Linked DNA regions of Homo sapiens. The protein of the gene in region 2 purifies or fractionates together with the protein of the main gene of each other region. This does not show direct contact. Each region holds a gene or a part of one and is shown on either strand. Other genes may lie near its edges. The genes, in order: RAB5A and KCNN3.

Region 1 (4,021 bases), on a different chromosome or scaffold from region 2:
AGCGGATGTCTCCATGAATAATAAACTATTGTCATCTGCATAGGACTGTGCTTCCTGTTTACAGAACAAAAAATGAGATATATGAGATATATCTCTTGGAAATACACTACACCTGCTTTAAACTTGTTATAGAAAAGGAGACTTTCTTATTACTACAACCTGATTCCTATAATCATCTATAATCAACAACTATATAATAAGCTACAACAGAGGTAAGAGCACTGTGCAAGATAATTTTATAATGGACTATTTCCTTTTTTGTCTGAAATTCTTGCATTATCCCACCTTGATTAATCTTTTCTTACATTAAATCTGCTTTCAAATACTGAGTTCCAGAGATGGGGGAGAATTATCTTATTCTAAATAAAACTCTCTTTGATCTCAACGGCAATTTTTATTTGCACTTACTGTCTGCAATGAAGACAAAGGGAAACCAAATATCTAACACTGGCTTCAAACACTAAATGACAACCTCATATTTAATTTTCAATGACTTCTACAGCAATATTATAATCTTGAATATATCATAAATCATTCCTTTGAAAATTACATCACTGCCCTACATTTTTGTCATGCTTTTACAGTTTACATATATTATTACTTTTGATCCTCATAGCTGTTGTGAGGGGTAACCAATGATCTTTCCCATTGGACAAAGAAACAACTGAGGTTCCTCTGAACTGTTATGTGACAGGGCCACTTCTGACTGTAATTTAAGTGTTTTCTCTGCCACTCTTGTGCTGGGAAGGCAACAATTTTGGAAAGAGTAATGGATACTACATCTCACATCGTTGTCCTAAGAATTAAATAAAATTACAAATGTAACATGCCCAACTTAATACCTAATGATGCAAGAATACATGGATTCCATCTACGTCATCAAAAAAGAAAACTATTTCATCACTGATATATACAGAACAGCCACAACCGCCCTTCTAGTAGAGAAGCCAAAGAGCAAGAGAACAGGCACAGTTTTAAAAGGTCTAAGTATGCCGGGCGTGGTGGCTCACGCCTGTAATCCTAGCACTTTTGGAGGCGGAGGCGGGTGGATCACAAGGTCAGGAGATCGAGACCACCCTGGCTAACACAGTGAAACCCTGTCTCTACTGAAAACACACAAAAAATTAGCCAGGAGTGGTGGTGGGCGCCTGTAGTCCCAGCTACTTGGGAGGCTGAGGCAGCAGAATGGCGTAAGCCCAGGAGGTGGAGCTTGCAGTGAGCTTGAGATTGCGCCACTGCACTCCAGCCTGGGCAACTGAGCAAGACTCCATCTTAAAAAAAAAAAAAAAAGTCTAAATAGAGGACTTGCTTTGTTTTTAAGTGATTGCACTTGCCTATTTTGCAGCAGCAAACATTCTGAATTAGCAATCGTAATACAAAACTGGATTTTCTCAGCCTTAAAAAAATTTTTTTTAATTATTAGTTTTTAGCTTATTATTTTCCAACTCTGGATACAGATTGGCAGAACCTTTATGTTTGAATGCCCCTTTAAGAACAACCACATAAGTGTTTGCGTATGTACATATGTGGGGTACACACATGTGCTGATACATATTTGCACATGAGTAGAAGAGGGTTAGGACATAAAGTATGTGTGGGATGGAGGAATTAGGGCAGGATACAATCACTTTCTGCACTGTGAACAATGACTACTTTTACTGTTTTTCTTTTTTATTTTGAGACGGAGTTTTGCTCTTGTTGCCCAGGCTGGAGTGCAATAGTGTGATCTTGGCTCACCACAACCTCCGCCTCCTGGGTTCAAGAGATTCTCCTGCCTCAGCCTCCCAAGTAGCTGGGATTACAGGCATGCACTACCATCTCCAGCTAATTTTGTATTTTTAGTAGAGACAGGGTTTCTCCAAGTTGGTTAGGTTGGTCTTGAACTCCCAACCTCAGGTGATCCACCCACCTCGGCCTCCCAAAGTGCTGGGATTACAGGCGTGAGCCACTGAACCCGGCCTTTATTGTTTAAGTCTACAAAATCTTTGGGTCAGTTTATATATTACAATAATCTATTTAAAAATTTAGGTTTATCAGAAACATTTTATTATATGTAGTACTTTATATTTGTTTTAAAAATCAGTATTTTCTATTACTTGCATGGTTTTGACATTATAACTAATTCAAGTGTTGACATGAAAGAAAAACATACAGGAAAAAAGTGCCTTTCAAATGAGAGTTAAATTTAACATACCTGGAAATCTACTGCTCTTTTATTTGCTAGGTCGGCCTTGTTTCCCGATAAAGCTATTACAATGTTAGGACTTGCTTGCCTCTGAAGTTCTTTAACCCAATTTTTTGCTCTTGCAAAGGACTCCTGTTAAACAAAGAAACAGCCATTGAGCACAGGCTCAAAAAATGGTTACCAAGCATCTTTGTGATACAAGGCTTTAAAAGACTGTCCCAAGTGACTGTGGGAAAGAAATTATTAGGACTATTGTATTATGAGACATTTTCGTTTTTTTTTAAAACCAGATTTTCTAATTCACAAAAGCTTCAGCAGAAAGGTCATGACTATCAGAAAAAGATTTTCCAAAACATTTAATCAAAATTCTGAACACCAAAAGTGGGTACTCAAATTAGTTTTACTGTGGAATGCATCCATACTTACCTCATTTGTGATATCATATACAACTATGGCTGCTTGTGCTCCTCTGTAGTACATTGGTGCTAGGCTATGGTATCGTTCTTGACCAGCTGTATCCCATATTTCAAACTTTACTGTAGTGTCATCAAGACATACAGTTTGGGTTAGAAAAGCAGCTGAAAGAAAAGGACTACAATAAGTCAATCATTTTTCTCCAAATGTTTTCATAATATAGAAAACACCTGCTTGTATACATCTATCAAAATGTCACACTGTACCCCGTAAGTATGTACAACTATTATGTGTCAGTTAAAAGTAATAAATGAGGGGGGAAAAAAAAAGAAAACACCTAGAAACTTGACAGATTGCATACCCACAGCTGATAATAGCTTTAAATACTGGCAAACCTGTGCTTCTAAGCTATTTACATATATGCTTACATATAGGGCCTTTGTAGTGAAATCACAGATTGAAAAACTTCTGCATCTTAAAAAAGCTTGTTATAATACTAAATAAACTTAAGACTACATTTCTTTTCCTTCTTCTTTTTTTTTTTTTTTTTGATACAAGAGTCTCAGACTAGAGTGCAGGGGCGTGATCTCAGCTCACTGCAACCTCCGCCTCCCGGGTTCAAGCAATTCTCCTGCCTCAGCCTCCTGAGTAGCTGGGACTACAGGCATGCACCACCACACGTGGCTAATTTTTGTAGTTTTAGTAGAGATGGGGTTTCACCATGTTGGCCAGGCTGGTCTCGAACTCCTGATCTCAGGTGATCCGCCCACCTTGGCCTCCCAAAGTGCTGGGATGACAGGCGTAAGCCACCAAGCCCAGCGAAGACTGCATTTCAAAATTGCTCTACAATTAAAGAAATGCACTGATAGTCTTAAAAAATGAAGTTGGGGGAAACCCAGTGTGCCTAAAAGTACCATCTATACTGCTGACACCATGTCCTGTTCCATTTTACTAGTTTTTATTGGCGCACACTGGCAATTTAGTCCCAGTCAGTTACCACCAAATTAGTATTTCTTGTTATATTATCTTTTTTTTTCTTTTTCTGAGACACAGTCTTGCTCTATCTCCCAGGCTGGAGTGCCTCCCAAAAGTGCTGAGATTATAGGCGTGAGCCACCGTACCAGGCCTCTTGCTATATTATTTTTTAAAACATTGTGACACTTTAATTGTGGTAGTCATTATTACCTTAACCTAGATTTAATTTGTTCAGTTGATTCAATATTTGCTCCTACCTTTCATTCCCTGCCATAAGAATTTTTTGGATCTGTACTTTCCCTGATTCTAATTTTAACACTAGGAAAGTAGCATTATAGGCCAGGCGTGGTGGCTCATGCCTGTAATCCCAGCACTCTGGGAGGCTGAGGAAGGCAAATCACGAGGTCAGGAGATCAAGACCATCCTGGCCAACATGGTGAAACCCTG
Region 2 (4,032 bases):
GGTCGTCTGACAGGTCTGCCCCACCCGTTTCCAGGGCGGGAAAGTCTGCCCATCACCGATTAAAGTGAGATGCTGGGAATGGGGGAAATCCGATCAGCACCTCCTAGGTTTTTGCGGCTGGATTTCAATAAGGAATGTGACAGTCTCGCAGCAGCTGTGCCCTGCCTGAAACAAGCTCTATTTGAAACCTCCAACAGCTGAACCCCTCCCAGCTACCCGATGGCCAGCCCGCCCAGCCACCCCCCCACCAAGCCACCCCCTGCCCCAAATGACAAATAAATAGAAAAACCCAAGCAACAAGCAGGCGCATGCATACGTACAAACATTACGCACATACACACACACACACCAACAAATTGGGGGTGGGGGTATCGTGGAGCCACTTGTCCACCGATTCCCAGGTCTCCAAGCCTTCCAGCCCACAGCAGGAGAGCTCCCCGGCAAGCAGAGCATCGGCAGAAACCCACCTTCCTCCATCTCCACTCCCTCTGGGAGGGAAACCCCCTCCTCCGTCTTGGGGCTGGACTGAGAGGCTGGAGCAGTGGGGCCAGCTCCCCGCTAAAGCCAGTGCCTGCTGTTCTCCATCCGGGCGCGCACTCACACACACACTCATCTTTATTTATCCCAAGGAGGAGTTGAGGTGGGAGGGGAGAACTGGGGCTGAGCTGGGGCGCGGGCTTGTGGGGACCGCCTGGGAAGCCCTGTCATCCCGTCCCAAGGAGAGGTGCTCCCCCAGCTGATTCCAAGGCGGCGCCCAGCTGCTCTGCCCAGGTAACACCTGTAGCCATTTTTATCAGGAGATGTTTACGAAGCAGCAGCAGGTTTATTCTGAGTCCTCTCTCCTGAGGGAAAGGACCACTGATTTCCTCCACCTATATTTTTACCCCATGCCCTCAGGAGACCCAGGTCATGGATGGTTTTCTATTTTGCCCGAGACTCTCTGAGAAGAGGAGGGAAACAGAAACTTGGGAAGAGATGGAGAAGACAGGGAGAGAAGGGACTTGGGCAATGGTACGGAATCCCCACCCCCCACCCAGACATTTATTTCTTTTTTATCCTCAGGAAAATGGAGTGGAGCAGGGAGGGGAGGAAAGAAGGGGAAGTCGCAGGAACTGGCAAACACATGAAGGCGGAGTGTAATTAATTGGTGCGTTAAGCTGCTGGGTTATGCTTTAGTACGAGTGAGCCAGGAGGAAAAGCGATTTCTCAGAAGGGATTATTGAATCCTCCCTAACAGAGAGTCTGCAAATTAGACACAGTGTGTGGGGATGTCCCCTACCCCCCAGAGGAAGCTAGGAATGAATTCTCCCGGGATCAAGAAGGAAAACCACGGGAAGTTAGAGTGTTGAATATAACTGAGCAAGCGCCTCTCACCACCACCACCACCTCTCTCTCCCAGTCTCCCTCCCAATCTCTCAATCTCTCTCTCTCTCTCTCTCTCTCTCTCTCTCTCTCAATCTCTCTCTCTCACAATCCCCCTCTCTCAATCCCTCTCTTGCTACCTACATATTCCTTTTGTTCAAGGTATAAAGAGAAACCACAGCCCCTACCTTTGAGTACAAACCCCAAGAGAGCTCGGTCTCTATCACCATAACAACAATTCCAAACATCCCAAAAATCAGAGCATAGTCACTCAGTCGCTTTCTCTTTTCAAACAGGGCCCTCCTGTGTCCCAGCTTATAGCCAATGTTTTGGTTTTTCCGCTTGTTGGCTTTGGGGAAGGTGGTGCTGCTGGCGGTGGTGCCGGCATGCTGGTGGTTGTGGGTGGCATTAGGGTGATGGAGCAGGGTCTGGTGGGCATGGTTGTCCTCCCGGGAGGAGATGACGATCTCCGGGGGGTTGCTAGGGCTGAAAAGCTGGAGGGGTTGGCCCTCAGTCTCGGCCTCGATGAGGTTCCTCCGGGAGGCGCTGAGGCGGCTGAGGGGCTTCATGACCCCACCGCTATACTTGCAGGAGCTCATGGCGATCTCCGTGAAGGGGTTGCTGTCCCGCCGGTGCACCAGGGGGCTGGCCTGTCGGTGCCGGCTGCCTCCGCCAGGCCCACTTGTAGCTGTGGAACTTGGAGAGTGGCCAAGCAAGTGGTCATTGAGATTGAGCTGGCTGCCTTGCCTGGAGGAAGGGTGGAGGATGGCGGTGGAGTTGGACGAAGGGGGGGCCCTGAAAGCGGTGGGAGAGGAGTGCAGCAGGCCAGGGTGGACGGGCTGGCTCTGGAGTTGGGCGAGCTGAGACAGGGGATGCGGTGGCTGCTGCTGCTGCTGCTGCTGCTGCTGCTGCTGCTGCTGCTGAAGCTGCGGAGGCTGAGGCTGCAGCGAGGGTCCCAGGGGCTGCTGGGGGGCTGCTGGTGGCGCTGGCGGTGGTGGCTGCTGCTGCTGTTGCTGCTGCTGCTGCTGCTGCTGCTCATCCCCAGAGGATGGACAGGGGCACTTGGGGTCTTCATCCAAGTCCCCCACCCCCGAGTCATGGAAGTGCCCAGAAGTGTCCATCTTGGGGCCTGGCTGTATTCCCTGCAGCACAAGCCCCCACCCCAAAGCCACCCTCGCTCCAAAGATGTCCTCAAAGAAAGCCAGGCATCCAATCTCCCCCACCAGTATCTTGGCTCCAGTCCTCTCTTTGGCTTGCTTCGGTTCTCTGGGGCTGCCTGGAGTCCAGACGCTGCCACTCAAGAATGCATTGTATTGGGCAGGGAGGGAGAGCAGGAGGGGAGCTTGGAGAAAGAAGAGGGGGTGAAAGAACTCTCTCAGGAGGTGGTCCTCTAGGAGCGTGTGAGGCCAGGCTCAGCTTCACTCCTCGCTGGCTCAATAGCTTCGCTCGCCTCCTCCTGCCACTGTTACATTGTAAGCCAAGCCCACTTATTAGCAGCTGGTCTCATTGGCTTGGCTTAACTCTCCAACCTCCTCCTAGCTCCGCCCCCCGCATAGGCTCCTCCCCAGAGGAGGGGCCTGGCGTCCTGGGCTCCGGCCCCAGTGGCGGCGCAGCGAGGACTGGGAACTGTAGTTTTTGCTCCCCCACCCCGGAGCTGAGCCGCTGTCCTCTTTCCTCTGACAGGTATGGCCACAACCCTTAAGCCCACGGCGATAAGGGATGTTCGCTCACGCTGGGCGATGGGGAGGAGGGACAGAGGGCCTCCGAAGGAGGGGAGGTGTGCACCCTGATGAGGGGGCAGACGGAGGGGAAGGCAAACATTTATTAACCACCAGGGTTTACGATAGGTTGTTTCACATATATTATCCGGATACAGTCTCCAAACACCCAAGGAGGTGGGCAGTATGGTCTCATTTACAAAGCCTGATGCTTAGAGGTGTTGAGTAACAACGTCAAGGTCACAGAAGCAGGGGGGATCCACACCTTCTAACACCCGGTGGATAAACTCACCTACCATTGACTGAGTGCCTACGCCTCGTGTTCAGGGTCCTCTCTGTTATTTCCAACCCTCACATCAACCCCACAAAAATGATGTCATCACTCTCCTTTTACAGATGAAAATTGGAAGAAGAAGAAGAAGAAGGAGAAGGAGAAGAAGGAGAGAAAGGAAAGTGGAAAAAACACTCAAACGCTCAAACATAGATATGTAACTTGTCAGATGTCATCCCGCTTGTAATTAAAGATGCTGGGATTTGAACTTAGTCAGTCTGACCCCACAGATCAGATACTTTCTCCCAGGATGCATTTCCACTATGATATTCAGTACAAAGTGGTTGTTCAATAAATATTGTTCAAATGTTAGTTGGGGAAAACAAAAGAGAAGCTGCTGAGGAAGAACTGGCCTCTCCAAAGCAGGGTGTGTGAAGTGGACCATGGCTCCAGCCCCTTCCCTAACAGCTGGGTGTGTAGTCACAGGGGGATCTGGCAGGAAGACTGAAGATTCCCCCATGGTCATTCCCTGCCTGATTTGCCCCATGGGGCTCTGAGAGTCAGAACTAGGAACAGCTGCTGGCTTCCCAGGTTCAGAACCATCATCATCAAGTATTTATTAAGCCCCCACTGTGTGCAGAGGGGGTTCCAAAGGATGGGACCAGAGCTGAATTCATTTTC

What was found.
Region 1: the proteins of KCNN3 (region 2) and RAB5A purify together in Homo sapiens (affinity purification with western blotting, with the first as the bait; one study listed by BioGRID). This does not show direct contact.

What each region holds. Positions count from the first base shown.
Region 1 is NC_000003.12:19,974,343-19,978,363, reverse strand, and holds part of RAB5A (ras-related protein Rab-5A), read right to left. Parts: intron 2,764-4,021; coding exon 2,612-2,763; intron 2,318-2,611; coding exon 2,195-2,317; intron 55-2,194; coding exon 1-54. UniProt on the Homo sapiens protein: The small GTPases Rab are key regulators of intracellular membrane trafficking, from the formation of transport vesicles to their fusion with membranes.
Region 2 is NC_000001.11:154,867,482-154,871,513, forward strand, and holds the start of KCNN3 (small conductance calcium-activated potassium channel protein 3), read right to left. Parts: upstream 2,801-4,032; 5' UTR 2,484-2,800; coding exon 1,551-2,483; intron 590-1,550; exon of another isoform or gene 468-589; intron 1-467. UniProt on the Homo sapiens protein: Small conductance calcium-activated potassium channel that mediates the voltage-independent transmembrane transfer of potassium across the cell membrane through a constitutive interaction with calmodulin which binds the intracellular calcium allowing its opening.